2 separate regions of the Homo sapiens genome follow, and region 2 is linked to region 1. The links come from fine-mapping of genetic effects on gene expression. A gene starts in region 1. The other region holds a variant in brackets. All regions are shown on one strand. Distances are from middle to middle.

Evidence for each region. PIP is the estimated chance that this variant, and not a neighbour inherited with it, causes the effect. A credible set is the group of variants that fine-mapping cannot tell apart.
Region 2: its variant is the best candidate, but not a certain one, in a credible set for the expression of TMEM9B in whole blood (INTERVAL, PIP 0.57).

What each region holds. Positions count from the first base shown.
Region 1 is chr11:8,961,730-8,967,106 of GRCh38, reverse strand. TMEM9B (TMEM9 domain family member B) reads left to right here and starts at 2,665. Exons shown (of 5, transcript NM_020644.3): 1 at 2,665-2,898; 2 at 4,924-5,015. The coding sequence starts at 2,794. TMEM9B-AS1 (TMEM9B antisense RNA 1) reads right to left here and starts at 2,432. Exons shown (of 5, transcript NR_073431.1): 1 at 1,959-2,432; 2 at 1,063-1,203; 3 at 451-566. RefSeq lists silencers at 2,472-2,971, 3,012-3,201.
Region 2 is chr11:8,856,051-8,861,427 of GRCh38, reverse strand. It overlaps a transcript of DENND2B not described here. Among named protein-coding and RNA genes, the nearest start is that of DENND2B, 48 kb to the right of the region's middle. The variant A/G (reference allele first, on the strand shown) is at 3,181.

The sequences.
Region 1 (5,377 bases):
ATACTTTTCTTTTAGACTAACCAGAGGAGCCTCTCCCATTCCCCTTTTCCCTGGTCCCCACAAACATCATATTGTTTTAATCTGTCTCCAGGTATAACAATAATAAGACAAAGTCCTTACCCTCAGAGAGCTCACAATATTTTGGTGGAGGTTTGGGTATAAAGGCAAATGTGAAAACATAATTTTACTATAATGGGGTAAAGTTAAGAAAGAGATCTATGCAAACATAGAAAGGAGTGCACTTAAGTCAGTGAAGGTTTTCTGGCTTAGAAGAACCCTGACCTAAAGGAAAAGTAAGAGTTACCTAGATAAGAGCAGGGCAGAACAAGAGAAACTGATCCCTCCACTTCTATTGAGTCACCTGAAATTATATTCATTTTTTGGCAGACATATACCTCCCCCAAACATTCGGCTCTAGTTGTGCCAGTTCTTCCTTGTCAGCCCTCTTACCTTGGCCTGAGGCTTCATTGTCTCCAGTCAGGCGACTATCTCATAGTCACACTCCACTCACGGCAGCCACATTCTGTATTCCAGAACAGCACTTCCTGACAGCACTATAACATTTTCTAGCAGCCACATTTAAGAGGTCAAAAAACAAGTGAAATATTTTACTAATATATTTTATTTAACCCAACATATCTAAAATATTTAAACCATATTTTTAAATTACTGAAATATTTTACATTTTAAAAATATTGTCTTTGAAATTAAGTGTATATTTTATACAGCACATTTCAATTCAGTCTAGCCACATTTCAAATGCTCAATTGCCACATGTAGCTAGATAGTGGTTATACTATGGAGCTCTAAAATTCCGCCCAGACTGAGTGTGCTTGGTGTTTCTCCATTAAACAGATGAGGCCCATCAGTCTGAGGCACAACTATGTATTTTCTCTAAGTCTCTGTACCCCCAAGGCCTTGAAAACAATTCGGAAGGAAGAGAAGGCCTATGAGGTTTCAGCTACAGCAGGCACTCCCTTTAGATGCCAAGCCTAGAAAACCCTAAACTGATGCCTAACTTGCAGCTGAATCACCTTTCAGCAATCAGATTCAGTGCCTCACCAACACATTTGATCCAGGGAGTCTCCAGTTTGTCCTTTGTCCAGTAGAAGACCCACTACAAAGCCTTGATAATTCATCAAAGTGACAGCACCTTCACTGGGCAGTCTGGTGAGAGGACATCTAGCCCTGCCACCCTGGTTCCTGTTGGGAACAGTATCAGATACGTTGTGTTAGATTCACATGAATCTAAGAATCACATGGGCGAAAAATATTGAGAGCATTCTGTTAAAACATTTCCACAAATTGGGAAAAGACCATCTTTAAAAATCTGTTGGGGCCGGGCGCGGTGGCTCACGCCTATAATCCCAGCAATTTGGGAGGCCGAGGCGGGCGGATCACAAGGTCAGGAGATCGAGACCATCCTGGCTAACACAGTGAGACCCTGTCTGTACTAAAAATACAAAAAAAAAAAAAGAAAAAGAAAAAGAAAAAAAAAATTAGCCGGGCGGCGTGGTGGCGGGCGCCTGTAGTCCCACCTACTAGGGAGGCTGAGGCAGGAGAATGGCGTCAACCCGGGAGGCGGAGGTTGCAGTGAGCCGAGATCGCGCCACTGCACTCCAGCCCGGGGGACAGAACGAGACTCCGTCTCAAAAAAAACAAAAAAATCTGTTTACAGAGGTAAAAACACGGGTATTACATGGAGCATAATTTGAAATCCATTCCCTCATATTCAGCCAAGAACTACAGGCCCAGAGAAGGGAAGTGATTTGCCAAAGGTCATTCAACAAATCCCTAGGGGCTGTGATGATCCGTGTCCTTGCCATTACCTCCCTTGTCTCCACTAACAAAAATATTTCAATGGGAGAATGTGCCGATCTAAGGCACTCCTAAAGTACTTGCTGAGAATGACAGCCCTGGGGAGACAGGTCGGCAGCCCTGAACAGGCACTGCCTTACCCGGGCGTAGTGCCCCAATTCGCCACCTCTTGGAGTCCTAGGCGGAGGATACTACTGGGGCAGTTGTTTCGCCAATTCCACATCTCCCGGAGCCTGGCCTGGCCCAGCCCAGCCCCGTCGCTGTGACCCACTTCCTAGCTGCAGGCTGGACCAAGGGGAGGCACATGGGGAGCTCCACAGGGAGGCCACGCCCACGAGGGCAGCTCACAGAATTAGAAAGCCGACGGGGTGCTGTGGTCAGGAGGCGCGTGGGCGGCAGGTTAGTACTTAAGGTGCAGAGACCACCCCCAACCCTTTGACTGGCGGTGGGCATCCCGGAAAGGCATGGCTCGGCCAATTCCAGCCCCGTTTCCACGCTCAGCACCCGCCCTGCCTGTGCGCGAACGGCTCCGGCCCGCACGGGTCGCCAGAGGCGACTGTGTGACACTCGGAGTTTGCTGGGGTCTCCGTGGGCGGGAGGACTTTCCAGCGCAATGGCGACTCCCTAAGCCCCGCAGCTTCTGCGCCCGGGAAAGATATCCAAGAGATGCAAAGCTCTACTGGGCCCAGGCTGCCACCCCAGAGGCCCCCTTCCGTCCCGGGGCCGGGGCTAGGCCAAGGCGGGCACCAGGACTGCCCAGCCTCCCGGCCCTTCGCACTGGTAACCGGTTCCGGGGCGGATGCTTTTTGCATCTGACCCGGCGCGCCCGGTGACGCCTTCGCGTCCAGACGGAAGTGCGGGCGGAGGATCCCCAGCCGGGTCCCAAGCCTGTGCCTGAGCCTGAGCCTGAGCCTGAGCCCGAGCCGGGAGCCGGTCGCGGGGGCTCCGGGCTGTGGGACCGCTGGGCCCCCAGCGATGGCGACCCTGTGGGGAGGCCTTCTTCGGCTTGGCTCCTTGCTCAGCCTGTCGTGCCTGGCGCTTTCCGTGCTGCTGCTGGCGCAGCTGTCAGACGCCGCCAAGGTGAGTCCCGCCCAGCCTCGCTCCTGACGGAAGCTCCTCCCCTACCACCGGCCTTGCGGAAACTGGGTCTGCCAACCTGCTCCTTGGCCCATTCCTGACAGCCATACGCCTGGCCTCACAGCTCCGGCAGACCCCCGCCGCCACCAGCCCCGCCCCTCCCGACTGCCCGGCGGCACTCTCGCCCTCAGCCCCGACAGCCTGGCAGGCAGCGCCCCACGGTCGTCCCCAGCCCCGACAGTGCCCACAGTCCGGACAGCAGCCCCCCACCGCCTTAACATTTCCCTTCCCAGCCCCGGCTGCACGCATCTTACACTTGACAACCTTTTCACCTCCGAGAGCCTTTAACTTTCCACCCTAAGCTCTTGACAGCCCACCTGCGCCCTCCGCCAGCCTCACAGGCCCCGCATGCCCCAAGCCAGAATGATAGGAAGCCCCCATCTGACAGAGCCTTCCCTGTCAAGGGCCGACTCAGCTCAGCTCACCCCTGAACACTTCCCTTCCTGTGGTGGGAACTTGCCCCTCCTGGCCTACTTCCCTCCCAATAGGGCCTACGGAGCATCTCTCACCTGCTTCATATTCTCACCTAACTCCCTCCACGAGTCCCTTGGTGCCTTTCTTGCTTTCTCTCTTCCTGATAATTTAGTGGGTAAGGGAAGAACCAAACTGCAAGAGAGGTGAGGTTGTGGCCTCCCTGGTTCGATTTCTTGACCTTCTAGTTCCCTCATACTGTTCTCTGGTGCCCCAGCTCTCCAGACCTGCCCTAGCTCCATGCATACCTGTGCTTCCTCTTTGATGAGCTAGCTCATCATTGGGGGAGAACAGAAGGGATTCACATTAGTATGATGGGAAAACAGAATGACATTGCGTTTTTAAAAATAAGAGCTTTAATTTATAATATCTTTAAATGTAGGAGTGGGGAAAGGTTACAGGCAGGCAAATGTTTTTGATTCAGAGATTCTTTTTGAAACCATCTCTACCTCCTACCAGAAACAGGGACAGCAGCACGTCTCCTGACTTTGAAAACATTGCTGGCACCCTCTGCATATCTTGCCTCATAACTTTATGTATTGTGATCATGTATTTATTTTTCAGTCTCCTTTACTAGGGTGTGTCCTGGTTATGGGCAGAAACCATGTCTTATGCTTATCTGAATCCACCTTATTGAGCACAAGATCTAACACAGAGCAAATGCTCACTAAGTGGTTGCTGAATACGTTTGTGAATTGTCAATAGCTCTGCCAGACATATCACTGTATATAGGAGGAGTGGGCAAGGTCCTCTGGGGAATGATAAGCCACTTCCTTCTCAAACAGATTCCCCTTTGCTGAGGAAGCATCTCTTCTTTTCTCTATCCAGATACTTAGTCACCTGTTCCTCCACCTCTTGAAACTTGTTTTGTTGGTAGTTGTTCTGTCTGTCAACCAGGAATTAGAAGCAAAGTTTCCTGGGAAGAGTATACTAAACTGATCTCAGAGTCAGGCTACTTCCTGTGTGTACTTCCTTTCTAGTTGTAGGTGGGTGCCTCTAACATTTCATCCCTTCTACGGGACTCTGGCCCAACCCGTTTTATCAATGTCAGTGCCTTCTACCAGAGGGTGAAAGGATGATAGGTAGAATTGTGACCTTTTTTGTGAATAATTTTTAGTTTCTTTCCCATCCTTTAGTAATGAATATTCTTATTTACAGGCACAACTATCTGCTTACCATGTGTCTTTCTAGTGGCAGATAGATGGTAATAACATTAACATAATTTGATTGTCATGTGACCCATAAATATGGTTAATAAGTCTTAGATCATGTATTAGGTATTATTTCAAAATAACTACATGTAATATATAATGATTCATTGGCATTACCATAAAGGACTGTGGCTTTTAAAAACTGTGTCTGTTAAAGTTTTAAATGAATGATTTTAGAATACTTGGTATTCTAAAGAGGATGCTTGGCAAAATGTATATGGTACAGTTTTTAAAAATATTGATGATAAACTGTCAACGCACTATACTGTTTCCATTTTGGTTACAGAATTTCGAGGATGTCAGATGTAAATGTATCTGCCCTCCCTATAAAGAAAATTCTGGGCATATTTATAATAAGAACATATCTCAGAAAGATTGGTAAGTATCTGGATTACTGAATTACCTGTCACATTTGTTTCTGTGGTTGTCAGTGTTATCCCAGAATGTTCATCAAATGCATAGTTTTCTTTTTAAGTATTTCATTTGAAGCAAAAATGTGAAATTCTACTTCCATTTGAAAAAGTGAGAGTGAGGCCCTACGTGCATGATGCCTGCAGGCCTAAAGGTATACAGCCAAAACACTAAGACCCATGTAGGCAGAGTTTCATGGGAGCATATGACTGGGTTTGTGGCACCTAAACTACCCATAGCTATCTTGCTGTACTCCCTCAAGTTTTGGTGAGGGACCTTTCTCCCTCTTGCTTTTCAGTGGAAGGTTAGCAAGCCTCGTTTGTCTGGGT
Region 2 (5,377 bases), 110 kb after region 1:
TTTTTCATATATTTCGTGGCTATTTGTATATCTTCTTTTCAGAAATGTTTATTCATATCATTTGCTCGGTTTTTGATGGGAGTGTTTTTTTCTTGCTGAATTATTTGAGTTCCTTGCAGATTCTAGGTATTTGTTGTTTGTCAGATGCATAATTTGCAAATATTTTCTCCCATTCTGCGGGTTGTCTGTTTAATGGTTATTTCTTTTGCTGTGCAGAAGCCTTTTAGTTTAATTAGTTCCCATTTATTTATTTATTTTTGTTGTTACATTCGCTTTTGGGGTCTTAGTCATAAATTCTTTGTCTCACCCAATGTCCAGAAGAGTTTTTCCTAAGTTTTCTTTTAGAATTTTTATGGTTTCATGTCTTAGATCTAAATCTTTGATCCATCTCGAGTTAATTTTTGTATATGGTGAGTGATAGGGATCCAGTTTCATTCTTCTGCGTGTGGCTAGCCAGTTTTCCCAGCACCATTTATTGAATAGGGTATCTTTTCCCAGTTTATGTTTTTGTTTGCTTTGTTGAAGGTTAGTTGGTTGTAAGTATTTGGCTTATTTCTGGGTTCTCTATTCTGTTTCACTGGTCTGTGTATCTACATTTATACCAGTACCATTGCTGTTTTGTTACTATAGCCTTGCAGTATAAGTCAGGTAACGTGATGTCTACAGATTTCTTCTTTTTGCTCAGGATTGCTTTGGCTATTTGGGCTCCTTTTTGGTTCCATATGAATTTTAGAATTGTTTTTTCTAATATTTTCGAAAATGATGTTAGTATTTGGATAGGAATTGCATTGAATCTGTAGATTGCTTTGGGTAGTATGCTCATTTTCATGATATTGATTCTTTGATTTCATGAGCATGGGGTGTATTTCTATTTGTTTGTGTCACCTGTGGTTTCTTTCAGCAGCGTTTTGTAGTTCTCCTTGTAGTGCTCTTTCACCTTCTTAGTTAAGTATATTACTAGGTATTTTATTTGTTTTTGAAGGTATTAAAAAGGATTGAGTTATTGATTTGATTCTCATCTTGGTGGTTGTTGGTATATAGCAGTGCTACTGATTTGTGTACGTTGATTTTGTAACCTGAGACTTTACTGAATTTATCAAATCTAGGAGTCTTTTGGAGGATCTAGGCATCTTTTAGGGTTTTCTAAGTGTACAATCATATCATTAGCAAACAGAGATAGTTTGACTTCCTGTTTTCCAATTTGGATGCCCTTTATTTCTTTCTCTTGCTTGATTGTTCTGGCTAGGACTTCCTAAGGTCATTTTATAAATATTCATAGTAACTAGTTGAAGGCACTGAGATTCCTGTACCTTGGCGGGAAGAACCCTGCTGGATGATTCTCTAGGTGTTTATTTGGGTTATGCCCATTTTCTTTCCCTCTTTTCTTCCTAAGTTTTGATGCTCCTGTTTTTCTGGGAATATTTTGGCTTCATTGTTTAGGCTTTTTTAAGGGCCATGGGGAATTCTGGGGACAGGGGCAGGTGTGACATGTTGCTAGGTATGGGAGGTTTTTACAGCTTGAGAAATTTCCAGGAAAGAAGAGACAGAAAACTTTGTTCACAAAGCATGTGGACAGGAAGTCAGGTGGGAAAATGGCATGGCAGATGGTGTAACTTCTTTGGTCAGCATGCCTGTCTCTGCCAAGATGGGACTGATAGGGTAGTGGGGGTAGTGGGGCAGTGCTGAGGATATAACTTATAATTCACATTATTCCTTGAAGAGAAGATGGTTCTTTGTTTTAAAAGGAAGTATAGTGCCTTACATTGATTTCTTTGAAATATACATGATATAATCCATGAATGAGTATTTGCAAAACACGTGGCCGGGCGCGGTGGCTCACGCCTGTAATCCCAGCACTTTGGGAGGCCGAGGCGGGTGGATCACGAGGTCAGGAGATTGAGACCATCCTGGCTAACATGGTGAAACCCCGTCTCTACTAAAAAATACAAAAAATTAGCCGGGCGCGATGGCGGGCGCCTGTAGTCCCAGCTACTCGGGAGGCTGAGGCAGGAGAATGGCGTGAACCCGGGAGGCGGAGCTTGCAGTGAGCCGAGATCGCGCCACTGCACTCCAGCCTGGGCGAGAGAGGGAGACTCTGTCTCAAAAAAACAAACAAACAAACAAACAAACAAAAAAACACGTTAGTGTTTATCTAACCCTATGCCAAGCCTGGTAGTAGATATACAATACAACTGAGGGAAAGTGATAACCTGAACTTAGAACATATAATTGTTACCTAAAGAATGATATAAAGCAGTACATCATCAAGCTCTAAATTTTGAGTTATTGATACATACAGGGGGTTTGGAGCCCCAGACAAGGTTTAGGACGTGCAGGCTTATGGCAAATCTTGGGCCAAATGGAGGCCTTTGGAGCTTTTGGAGCGCCCAAGGGCTCAGTCTTCAGCCTGTTTCTTGTCTCTGTCTTCACTTTTCTTAGGTGATTCCCTGGCTTTGAAGTACTAGCATTTATGGAATGTTTACTGGCTGCCAGAGGCTGTTGTAAGGGTTTTATGTGCACTAATCTAGCCTTCCAGACAACCTTATAATATAGGTATTTTTATTATCCTTGCTTAAAGGTGTAGAAACTGAGACAAGAGATGGACTTTCTTGAGCTCACACAGCTTATAAGCTGGAGAGCCAGGAAATGACCTAGTTTGGGTGACCAGCCAAGCCCTCGACTGGTTCAGAATAGCCATCCTCAGCTGGTCCTGGCTCCTCTGCTCCTGTCTTTGCAGTCTCTTCTCCACATAGCAATGAGAATATATATATTTTTTACCCTCATATGGAATGCTATCACACTTAGAAGTACAATGCACATTTACTACCAAGTTCTTGTGTGGTCTAAGCCCCAGCTCTCCCATCTGCTCCTGCCTTCCTCCCATCTCTTCTGTCTCATGGCCTTTGCCTGCTCCTAGGATGCTCTTCTCCTTGAATATTGCTGGTTTGTCACCCAGTTCATTTGAGTGTGGGCTCGAGTGTGCCACCTCAGGGAGGCCTTCTCTGCCCATCCTATGTAAAACTGCTCCGAGTCACTCTTTAATCCCCTCCTTTCTTTTTCTTCCTAAAATTATATTACATATTTCTGTGTTTTTCCTGTCTGCTTTCCCAAATAAATAAACTCCATGAAGTTAGGGACTTGATCCATTTGTTTACTGATATCTTTACTTTTTAGAATAGG[A/G]CATGGAAGGTTTTCTTTAAATATTTGTTAAATAAATGACTAAATGGTATCTTTTGCATTCATTTGCTGTTCATGACTTCACTTGGGTAAAAATAGTGGAGAGGAAAGGGAGGTACAGGTGATAACTACAGCCTGGGTCCTAACTGGTTTTATGTTTATTACCAAGGCTTTGCTATCATAACATGGCCAAGAAAATGCTCAGAAATCTTGGTTGAATGAATGCACTGTGTAATTTGTTCTGGATTCCACACAGAGGGGACAGAATAGTGTGGGCTGAAGTGCTCAGAGAAATTTCTTGGAGGACCTGCAGACTTTGAAGGAGAGATTGGATTTGGTCGAGCATATAGGAATCGAAGAATACTTTTTTTTAAAGGTGGAAGGGCTATAGGGTGAACTAGTCCAATCTTTCTGTTTATAGACAGGAAACTGAGCCCAGAGAGGTGTAGGACCTGCCCAAAGGCACACAACCAGTTGATGTCAGAACCACGTCTGGCATCCAGGTGTTTTGACTCCTAATTTAGTTCCCTTTCTTCTACACAGTGCTGCCTTCAGAATCCAGGAGGACTCTGGGGGTTGGGGAGTAACCAGGGGCAGCATGAGCAAAGGCCCAGAGGCAGAAAAGATGTTGGCTTGTATGGGCTGGAAATAGGTGGTCTATTGGAATCAGCAGGTTTATAAAGGAGCCCATCGGAGACAGACCAGGCTGAATCAGATCCTCTGGGATCTTGAATGTCATCTTGAAGACTTTGAGTTTGGAATGAGTGGGAGGCATGTGAAAATGCTTTGACTATTGTTCTGTCTTTCTCTACAGGGATGGTGACAGAATGGATAGTATAGAAAATGGATTGGAATTGAGGAGGAAACTAGAAGCTAAGAGGAGTTAGGAGGCCCTTGTAACAATCCAGGTATTATTGCTAAGGGCCTAGTATCATTTTAGTTATTTCTGTTTCTGTTTTTAGAGATTTGTGGTGGTTTTTGGAGAAGATGACATGAAATTATCAGGCAATATGTGTATACTCAGCTTTCTAATAGAGTTTGGGGATAAGAAGGAGGAGACCTGGTATTTTGCCTTAATTCTGTATGCGGCTATAAATGACATTTTAGTATCCAGATGATAATTCTTCTAAGAAACCTGGGCCAGGTTAGGACAGGAGGGATACAAGATAACATTATACTGATGTGAAAATAGTGATGGGGCTAAGTGCAGTGGCTCATACCTGTAATCCCAGTGCTTTGGCAGACTGAGGCAGGAGAATTGCTTGAGCCCAGGAGTTCTAGACCAGCCTGGGTGACATGGTGAGACCCTGTCTCTGCAAAAAGTAAAAAATTAGCTGGGCATGGTGGCACACATCTGTAGTCCTAGCTACTCGGGAGGCTGAGGTGGGAGGATTGCTTGAGACCAGGAGTTCAAGGCTGCAGGGAGCCATTATTGCACCACTGCACTCTAGCCTGGGTGACAGTCAAGACCTGTCTGAAGAAAGAAAAAAAAAAAAAAGAAAATAGTGATAGAGTGAGGAGAGACTGAAGGAACAGACGGAAATGAATGGGAGCAGCTGCCCAGAGAGGGCCTGGGCCTGCCTTTCCATCAGGGGAGCTGCCCAATATAGTGGTTGGGGAGTCAGGCATCCAGGGACTTCCAACCAACCTTGCACATTTTTTTTTGGACACGTGTGACCAGTGGAAGTAAAACCTGTCTCCTGGGCCCACAAATGCTTTGGACGGATAAGTTGTGCTCAAGCCTAGGCCCATTCAGGTAGTCCACATATGTTTTCAACCAGAGCTGATGAGAACAGATTGATACAGCCTGTACCAGGCCAGTGAATTGGCAGTGTATGATACTTTAAAAATTTTTCCATACCCAGAAATCTTTTTCCATCTCTAACAAAACACTTTGAAAGTCAGCATAAAAGTGAGAACACAGACTTTTAAATAATATCTTCTACTGGATCTGAAAGTTTTGGATGCAAGAAAAAAATCCTGGATCATTTAACATTCAATGGATATTTATTGAGGAGCACTTCTTAAACACCAGATACTGTGCTGGGTACTAGAGCTTCAGTCTTTTGATCATATTGCATCAAATGTTATTAATGGAACATTAACATTTGATTCTATTTCATGTTAAGCTCTTTTAGCCCCAAACGTTATACAGCTTGGTCCATAAACCTTCAGTTGGTTCAGCCTGTTCACTTATGTT